Homo sapiens: one gene and its partners. The protein of the gene in region 3 purifies or fractionates together with the protein of the main gene of each other region. This does not show direct contact. Each region holds a gene or a part of one and is shown on either strand. Other genes may lie near its edges.

Region 1 (3,737 bases), on a different chromosome or scaffold from region 3:
AGGAGTTTGAAACCAGCCTGGCCAACACAGCAAAACACTGTCTCTACTAAAAATACAAAAAAAAAAAAAAATTATCCGGGTGTGGTGGTGGGCGCCTGTAATCCCAGCTACTCTGGAGACTGAGGCAGAAATTTCTTGAGCCCAGAAGGCAGATGTTGCAGTGAGCAGAGATCACACCACTGCACTCTAGCCTGGGTGACAGAGTGAGATTCTGTCTTAAAAAACAAAAAAACAAATGGAATCATCAGGCAGAGGTGCATCTAGGTGGTAACATCACAAGTAGTTGTTGTTATTTATTAAGTATCTTCTGGAATAACATTAATCTTTGGTCTCATATTTGAGAAAAATAGTGTCATCAAAATACAATAAACTGACATACAATTTTTTTTTTTGAGACGGATGCTCACTCTGTCACCCAGGCTGGAGTGCAATGGCACAATCTTGGCTCACCGTAACCTCCGCCTCCTGGGTTCAAGTGATTCTTTTGCCTTAGCCTCCCGAGTAGCTGGGATTACAGGCATGTGCCACCACAGCTAGCTAATTTTTGTATTTTTAGTAGAGACAGGGTTTCACCATGTTGGCCAGGCTGCTCTTGAACTCCTGACCTCAGATGATCTGCCTGCCTAGGCCTCTCAAAGTGCTGAGATTACAGGCGTGAGCCACTGCACCCGGCTGACTAATACATTTTAAACAATTTTTGAAACAGTTTTAATAAGAAATCTAACCCATGTAAAGCTACTGCTAAAGCCTTTTGGCTGAGGTAGTAACTAATGAGGCTCTGTAAAATATACAGGTGCATTAGGGTAAAAAAGTCTACCTCTATTGAGCCATGAGTCCAAAATCTTAAATAATAAAAAAAAGTCTGGCCGGGCGCGGTGGTTCACACCTGTAATCCCAGCACTTTGGGAGGCCGAGGCAGGCGGATCATCTGAGGTCAGGAGTTTGGGACCAGCCTGGCCAGCATGGTGAAACCCCGTCTCTACTAAAAACACAAAAATCAGCCGGGCATGGTGGCACGCACCTGTAGTCCCAGCTACTTGGGAGGCTGAGGCAGGAGAACCGTCTGAACCCGGGAGGCAGAGGTTGCAGTGAGCCAAGATCGTGCCATTGCATTCCAGCTAGGGTGACAGAGTGAGACTCCATCTCAAAAAAAAAAAAAAAAGGTCTATCTCATCTGAGGAAATGTTGGGGTTTATTTCTACATTATTAGAGACATATTTTATATTAATATTCAAGAACACTTACATAATTTTGCCATATACGCAAATATCTTGAGCTTGAAAAGTATGATGAAAATCCTTAACTGTCTACTAAAATTATTTTTTTGACCATCATTTAATTTCATACAAAAATCAAAGTGCCACAGTCCTTCAAAGACATCAGAGTGACAATATCAAAGATTTTTCTAAGCTGATATTTTACATCTGAAAGGTCCAGACAATTATTTGTGCATGTACCCACACAATTTAACAACTTGCAAAGTGATCATACCTCTTCAATACCAGCTATATTATTCACAGCCAGTTTTTTTAGAGAACTCTGAAGCTTTTTGTCATCAGCTGTGGCTGTTCTATGTACCACCTTCTTCTTTCTGCGAGCTGTACCCTGAAAAATAACCAAACAGAAGCAGAAGTGTTAGCATGCCTGGCATCTGGCAACTGCAATCACATCTTACGTATCACAATAATCTAAAACCCACATTAAAAAATGGACAAAATAATAATGATTAATGTTATAAGACTTCTCAGAGGTTGTGATTGTCAGCCTAACGCAGATTTCTAAAGGTTGGTTCTAGCCAGTTCCTTTTTTTTCCTTATCAGCTTTTTCAGGTTGAATTATTCTTATCTAATATCCAGCCTTTGTCATTTCAACACAAGATACTGTTTGCTAATAAAACATAATTTATAACTTCAAGACAATTTAAATACTTTATAACAATTTTAAAACATTATCTTTTCTTATAGTAACTACCACCCCCTGCCAGTAGTCTAAAGATATTCTGAAATTTGGGGAATTAGGACATAACTGAAAATTAATGTCTACATTACAGTAGGAGGAAAAAAATCAATAAATATATAAACAAATCAGATAATTTCAAATGGGATTAAGTACTATTAAGAAAAAAGCAAAACTAGAGCACAGCAAGAATGACTAAGTAGGGGCAAAGCAATACTTTATTAGAAGGTCCAGGAAAGCCCCCTCTGAAGAGGTAACATATGAGTTGAGACCCATAACTAGGGCAAGAATGATCAAAGCAGAATGAAACAAGGTTGAACTTGTCCTTTCTAGAAGAGAGAAAATGGGCCAGTATGGCTAGAGCAGAGTGAATAATGGGAACGGAAGAGGAATATGAAATCAGAAAGATAGGCAAGGACCAGATTATGTAGCCTAGAATGCCATGGGCAGGAGCTAGATTTTATTGATTGCAATGGGAAGCCATTGAAAGGTTTTAAGCATGGGAGTGACTTGATCTGATTACTTATGACTGAAGTTGCTATGTAGAAAATGGATTATAAAGAGACCAGTCAGGAGGCTCCTGTAGCCGTCCTGGCCAGAGATGAGGGATATGGCAGTGAAGATGGTGAGGGGTCAGATTCTCACAAGAGACCACATGACTTTGCTGATGGATTACACGTGGGATATGAGAAAAAGAGGACATTTGGATGATGCTTAGAATCTTGGCCTGAGCAAACAGGTTGAAAATTATACTAGTTACTGAGAAAGAAAAAGTTCATTTCTAAATTGATACTGTGAAACTCTAAATACATTTTTCCATTGAAATACTATTTAAAATAATGGATTCCTGGATCAGTTTATTAAGTCTTGAGGGTTAAATCTTTCTAAAACTGGTAGGAGTAAGGAGAAAGGAATAGTGGTTTCAATCTCTGGGTAGCTCCTATAGTAGTACTCAGGGAATCAGCCTTATAGAGGTAAGGTAGGGGCTTCAGTCTCAGCAATTCCGGTGGGAGTGGAGGAGAGATCTGACAGCAGAGGATGCCTTGAAATCTAGTTGCTGAAGGACTGACTATTTACATAGGCACTCATTTGTGAAGCATTCCTGACTCAGGGATAGCTCAACTGCTTGGTGCTTGTTCAACTCGAATGATCCTCAGGCACCTCAAATTCAATATGTCTTAAAGCTTATCAGTCCACCAATCTATTCTTATTTCCTAACTTTTGTAGCTGGTGGTACCACCATATACTCAAGTCTCTAAAATCATGAATCTGAGGGTTATCCTAGATTCTTCTGCATGCCCTTTACCCCCCATATCCCATCAGTCACTAAATCGTGTCAATTCCAACTCCTAAATTTGTATCCCATATAATAGAGGTCCCCAACCCCCAGGCCACTGACCAGTACCAGTCTGTGACCTGTTAGGAACACGGCAGCACAGCAGAAGGTGGGGTAGGGGGCATGAGCGAGCATTACTGCTTGGGCTCCACAGCCAGTCAGATCAGCGGCAGCATTAGATTCTCATAGGAGGGCGAACCGTTGTGAGCTGCGTATGCGAGGAAACTAGGATGCGCACTCCTCATGAGAATCTAACTAATGCCTGATGATCTAAGGTGGAACAGTTTTATCCCAAAACCATCATCCTCCCATCCGTGGAAAAACTGTCTTCCACGAAACCAGTCCCTGGTGCCAAAAAGATTGCGGACTGCTGCCTTAGACTCTAGCAATAGCGTCTCAATTGTTCGCCTATAGGCCAAACTTCCATTTTGTTCCATTTTCCACA
Region 2 (3,500 bases), on a different chromosome or scaffold from region 3:
TTTAGGAAAAATTAATCTGGCTACAATGGAGTCAAGAATAGGAAGAAACTGCCTTGTAAATAATTCCGTTTTCTAACAGACTAAGGTGAAAGTTAAAAGCATAGTAAGAGCTAAAGATGACAGTAAAGGACACTTAAAGGTCTCAACATTAGTCTAGTGAGGGGAGGTCTGGTGCGGTGGCTCACGCCTGTAATCCCAGCACTTTGGGAGGCCAAGGTGGGCAGATCACCTGAGGTCAGGAGTTCGAGACCAGCCTAGCTAACATGGTTAAACCCCATTTCTACTAAAAATACAAAAAAATTAGCCAGGGACAGTGGCGCGCACCTGTAATCCCAGTGCACCTGTAGTCCCAGCTACTCGGGAGGTTGAGGCAGGAGAATCGCTTGAACCCGGGAGGCGGAGGTTGCAGTGGACCGAGATCACACCATTGCGCTCCAGCTTGAGCAAGAAGAGCAAAACTCTGGCTCAAAAAAAGGAAAGTCTAGCGAGGGGAAGTGAAGGAGGTGGTCATAACTATGAGACCACATTAAGCCCCAGAAGCAAAAATTTTAAATGTTACAGAATTAAGACAAAAAGAAGCAGTTAAAAGATTTGGCAATTAGGTCACTAGCGACCTCAGAAGAGATTTGTTATAGTGTTGACAGTGCAGATCAGACAGTGGATTTCTTTCTAAAAGTATAGGGAAAAGAAGAAATCGTTAGAAAAAGATGCAGAGATTCTGGAGGATAAAGCATTTTTATCTCGATGGAGGATAAAGCACTGCAGACTAATGAAAAAGCCAGAAGAGGGAAGTCGGTGAAGAGAAACATAGAAATTCTTCTAGTCATTACCAGATAAGCACACACTAAGTTTACCATACCAGGTGGTGGCAGCAAATTCATTATGTTTGGTCCATATAAACAGACAGTTTAAGAATTGCAGCTGCTATTAACTGAGCACCTACTATTGGCCAGCTGCATACCCTGTATTATTTTTAGTCCTCACCTCAACAATCTCAGGAAACCAGGCATTACCATACTCATTTGTTAACTGACTGAACTACAGCTCAGATGTTACATGACTTGCCTGATATCGCAAACTGGTAAATACTGGAGCAAAATTGTTTTTAATAGTTATATTAAAGCATAATGTACGTGTAGTAAAATTTACTTATTTTAAGTGAAAGATTTGATAAATGTATTAAATGTATATACTTCTGCAACAATCACCACAATCCAGTTTTATATAACACTCTATCACCCCAAAACTCCCTTCATGAGCAGGGCAGATTTAAGCCTGAATCTGTATGACTCCAACTCATGTCATGCTACAATGAGAAAAATGGCTTTTTTTGGCAGAAAATCTGCAAAATTAAGTCGTTACCCTTCCAATCTTCTCTTAGTACTCACTAGTTCCCTTTCCATGTGAGGCCCTCATATATCTCTAGAACCATACTCACATATCATGATCTCACCAAATTCACGAGTTTACTGTAATTTGGAAACATACCCCCTAAAAGGACAGTATAATCAGACTTTTATATAGGATGCTATTACAGATACTGTGCTCTTTTTTTAAAAAAAGCAAAAGGAGTTAGGAAAAGGAAAGACAAATGAACAGGTAAGTCCAGGAGGAAGACTGAATGAAAACAGAAGAGTAAGGTCCTTGAAAAAGGAAAATGTGATATACAAATAAAGAAAACATGAAATAACAGAAGTCAGGAGTCTGTGTCATGGAAGAGAGACTAACTGGAACAGAAGCTTCTCTTCCATAAGCAATGTAAAACCGTACAGAGACATAGGATGGAATGACTTCCTAGGCAGGAGTTAACACTTATTTGGCTAAGAAACAGGACTATACAATAATAAGACAGACAAAAATCAAAATAAAGTGAGACAATATTCATAGTAAAGTTATAAAGCTAAAACTTGTTAAATTTTATAATCATGATTTTCCTATAACTAATTAAAACAAGTGCAAATTTTTCTTTAGGTAAAAAAACAAGCAGGCTGGGCGCGGTGGCTCACGACCATAATCCCAGCACTTTGGGAGGCCAAGGCAGGCAGATCACCTGAGGTCAGGAGTTCAAGACCAGGCTGACCAACATGGAGAAACCCCGTCTATACTAAAAATACAAAATCAGCCCGGCGTGGTGGCACATGCCTGTAATCCCAGCTACGCAGGAGAAACGCTTGAAACCAGGAGGTAGGGGCTGCGGTGAGCCCTGATCACACCATTGCACTCCAACCTAGGCAACAAGAGCAAAACTCTGTATCCAAAAAAAAAAAAAGAATTATAGACATATAAGAATTCAGGCCTGGTGCAGTGGTTCACATCTGTAATCCCAGCACTTTGGGAGGCTTAGGCAGGTAGATAACCTGAGGTCGGGAGTTCAAGACCAGCCTCACCAACATGTAGAAACCCCATCTCTACTAAAAATACAAAATTAGCCAGGCGTGGCGGCTCATGCCTGCAATCCAAGCTACTCAGGAGGCTGAGGCAGGAGAATCACTTGAACCCGGGAGGCGGAGGTTGCGTTGAGCCGAGATTGCACCATTGCACTCCAGCCTGGGCAACAAGAGAGAAACTCTGTCTCAAAACAAAACAAAACAAAACAAAAACAAAAAAAAAAACAAGCAAATATAGAATTATAAATATATAAGAATTCAGGCCTGGTGCGGTGGCTCACACCTGTAATCCCAGCACTTTGGGAGGCCCAGGCAGGTGGATCACCTGAGTTCAGGAGTTCAAAACCAGCTGGCCAACACGGTGAAACCCTGTCTCTATTAAAAATACAAAAATTAGCCAGGTGTGGTGGTGCACACTTGTAATCCCAGCTACACAGGAGGCTGAGGCAGGAGAATTGCTTCAAGTTGAACCCAGGAGGCGGAGGTTGCAGTGAGCTGAGATCATGCCATTGCACTCTGGTCTAGGCAACACAGCAAGACTCCGTCTCAAAAAAAAAAAAAAAAAAAAGAATTCAGATACCATATCAGGGCCAGAAATAATTAAAATGATTAAAATAAGATATGACAAGCCTGGAACGAAAAAAAGTACAAATCTAAACAGGAGGATAAAATAAAATTTTCATTTAACTTATATTTTCACTTCCACCCAAACCTTTCCTTAGTTCTATAGAACTAGAAACACAATTCACTAAGTCTAGATGAAATGCTCTTCCAAGCAGAGCCAAAGAAACTGCTAGCCCATAATTAACAGAACACATATTTTATGACTATCTAATATATAACAGGTGTTGTAATATCCAATTTGTTAAATCAGTCCCCTGATTATTACCCTGAACACTCTGTCTAGTCCAACTTGATATTCCAAGAAACACTATTCTTCCTAGGAAAAAGACATACCTCTTTGAAATGAATGATTATAAAACTGTTCCAGTATTAGAAGAGAAGTCATTTTTTAATGTTAAGTAACAAAACCCAAAAATTTAGTTGTCAATTCTTACACTAGTAAGTCCAGAGATGGTATCCAGGTGACTACGGCAGAGAGTAATATACACA
Region 3 (3,062 bases):
GAGGTGGGGCATCTGGGAGGTGATTAGGTTATGAGGGTGGGGTCCTCATAAATGGGATTAGTGTCCTTATAAAAGAAACCCAAGAGACTACCATGTGGGGACTCATAGCAGGCACCATTTATGAGGAATGGGCCCTCGCCAGACACCAAATCTGCTGGCACCTTGATCTTGAACTTCCCAGTATCCAGGAACTATGAGCAACAAATTTCTGTTGTTTATAAATTACCTAGTCTAAGGCAATTTGTTGTAAGAGCCTGATCAGATTAAGACAGACCCCTGATCAGATTGACAGACCCCTACCTCAAAACCTATATAAAAATTGACTTGTTTATGTATGGGGAAAAAATAAACTTAAAATGGACCAAATAGCTGAAAGTAAGAGCTAAATCTATGTCTCCTTGAAGAAACCATAGCTGTACATATTTGTGCCCTTGGATTAGGCAGTGCTATTTTACATATGACACCAAAGCATAAAGAAAGAAAAAAATAGATAAATTAGACTGCAGCAAAATGAAAAACGTGTGCGTCAAAGGACACTGTCAAGAAAGTGAGACAACCCACAAAATGAGAGAAAAGATTTGCAAATTACACATAAGGGTCTAGTATCTAGAATACATAAAGGACTCTTATAAAAAATAAAGACAAATAACCTAATTTAAAAATGACCAAAGGATCTGAACAGATATTTTTCCACACAAGATATGTAACTGGATAATAAGCACATGAAAAGATGTTCAACACCATTAGTCACTAGGGAAATGTAAATCAAAACCTCAAATCAAAATTTCTCACCGAATAGGATGGGTATAAGACAATAACAAGTGCTAGCAAGAATGTGGAGAAATCGGAATCCTCACACAGTATTGGTGGGGATGTAAAATGGTGTAGCTGCTTTGGAAAACAGTCTGGTAGTTCCTCATAAGTTAAACATGGAATTACCACATGACCTAGCATATGGTAATTCCACTCCTAGGTATATACTCAAGAGAAATGAAAACATGTCTACACAAAAACACACATTTATAGCAGCATTCTTCATAATAACCAAAAAGTAGAAACAACCCAAAAATCTATGAACAGATGAACCAACATGAACAGAAAACCAACATGTAATATATCCGTACAATGCCTATTATTCAGCCACAGAAAAGGAATGAAGCACTGATTGATGCTACAGCATGGATAAAACTTGAAAACATGCTCAGTGAAAGAAGCCACACACAAAAGACCACATATTGTGTGATTCAATTTATTTATTTATTTATTTTTGAGACAGGGTCTTACTTTGTCACATAGGCTAGAGTGCAGTGGCACGATCTCAGTTCACTGCAGCCTCGACCTCCCAGGTTGAAGTGATCCTCCTGCCTCAGCTCCCCCAAGCAGCTGGGATTACAGGTGTGCAGCACCATGCCCCGCTAATTTTTGCATTTTTTGTAGAGACAGGATTTCGCCATGTTGCCCAGGCTGGTCTCGAACTCCTGAGCCTAAGTGATCCGCCTGCCTTGGCCTCCCAAAGTGCTGGGATTACAGGCGTGAGCCACTGTGCCCGGCCTGTGTGATTCCATTTGTATAAAATGTTCAGAATAAGCAATTCTAGAGACAAAAAGTAGACTGTGGTTGCCAGGGGCTAAATGTTTATGTTCCTCCAAATTCATATGAAATTCTAACTCCCAAGGTAATAGTGTTAGGACATGGGGCCTTTGGGAGGTGATTAGGTCATGAGGGTGCTGCCCTCACTGGAATGGGATTAGTGCCTTCATGAAAGAGCCCCACGGGAGCCTGTCTTCCCCTTCTGCCACATGAGGACTGAGAAGTAGGCAGTCTGTGACCTGGAAGAGGGGCCTCACTGGAACCCAACCATGCTGGCACCTTGAACTCAGACTTCCTAGCCTCTAGAACTGTGAGAAATAAACTCCTGTTGTTTATAAACTACCTAGTCTCTAGCATTTTATATTAGCAGCCTGAACAGACTAAAACACGAAGTACCTCATTGGATGTAGCAAATATTAAGAAACTGAGGATTTTTGTCGTCTTGTAACCCTCCTCCCTAACGTGCTCACTGTATCTTGTATTCACATCACCAGGCTTGGCCAAAATGTCACTGTCATTCAGGCTTAGAGATCACAGGACTGTGTAGAACAAGGCCAGCAGTTACACAAGTATCACACCAGAGAAAGGGAAATAGATTTGAGGATCTAAAGTACAAGCAACATCACAGAGGAGGACAAAGATATAAGATATAGGGTGGGTTTTTATTTCTACCAGGCCCCTCTAAACAGAGGAGCATTTTAAGCAATGAAACTCAGCCATAGCTTGCATGGAAGTTCATCTGTGGCCATATTTGGATCTGTCTTTTCTATAAGAAGTTCTGAAACGGACAGAAAAGTAGGTACAACCCTGTCATGCACTGGATTCTTAAATTTTCATTAACAGAAAACGATAAAAACATACTTACTTGTAGTATCACCACCATCCTAATTAGTGAAATTTGTTTAGTGAATAATCATCTACTATTATATATAACATTTAAAAAAACACACACATGTGGTCTATGCCTTTGCAGAACCATGAGATACATTGATGGAGATAAAGGGCTGATGAGAGGGAGAGAAAAGGCAGAGTGTTTACCTGTCCCAGCCAATTTGGGGGTTGGTTCTTGGAGGAGTGGGGATTTCTCCCAATGATGGGGGCTCAGCCGGTCATAAGCTCCTGCCTGGGAAGGCTCTGCTGGAGAGCTCTCCCTGAGATCTCTCCTAGGAGTCTGCGGTTGAAAGTCTGGCAGTTCCTGTTCTCCAAGCTGAGATCCAGTTTTCTCCAAGAGCACCTTTTGCCCCTGCATACAAACGGCCACCTAGGAACAAGCCCCATCCATTAATTCCATCCATCAGGACTGAGGGAAGCTTGATCTCTCACTGTTGTATAATGACCCGTTTACCTTGGGAATTGCTGATAACCATCTAGAGGTCAACTTTCATAGAAACCACTGAAACCCTCAAAGGAAGTAAAGGGGAGAACGTGAAGAATGACAGGAATGAGGATGCTACAAATCAGCCGAGTGGCTT

Evidence for each region.
Region 1: the proteins of ZNF174 (region 3) and BTF3L4 purify together in Homo sapiens (affinity purification with mass spectrometry; one large-scale study listed by BioGRID and IntAct). This does not show direct contact.
Region 2: the proteins of ZNF174 (region 3) and ZMYM2 purify together in Homo sapiens (affinity purification with mass spectrometry; one large-scale study listed by BioGRID and IntAct). This does not show direct contact.

What each region holds. Positions count from the first base shown.
Region 1 is NC_000001.11:52,062,693-52,066,429, reverse strand, and holds part of BTF3L4 (transcription factor BTF3 homolog 4), read right to left. Parts: intron 1,606-3,737; coding exon 1,492-1,605; intron 1-1,491.
Region 2 is NC_000013.11:19,965,227-19,968,726, reverse strand, and holds part of ZMYM2 (zinc finger MYM-type protein 2), read right to left. Parts: coding exon of another isoform or gene 3,446-3,500; intron 439-3,445; exon of another isoform or gene 325-438; intron 1-324. UniProt on the Homo sapiens protein: Involved in the negative regulation of transcription.
Region 3 is NC_000016.10:3,404,215-3,407,276, reverse strand, and holds part of ZNF174 (zinc finger protein 174), read right to left. Parts: intron 2,852-3,062; coding exon 2,629-2,851; coding exon of another isoform or gene 2,504-2,628; exon of another isoform or gene 2,369-2,503; coding exon of another isoform or gene 2,289-2,368; exon of another isoform or gene 1,236-2,288; intron 1-1,235. UniProt on the Homo sapiens protein: Transcriptional repressor.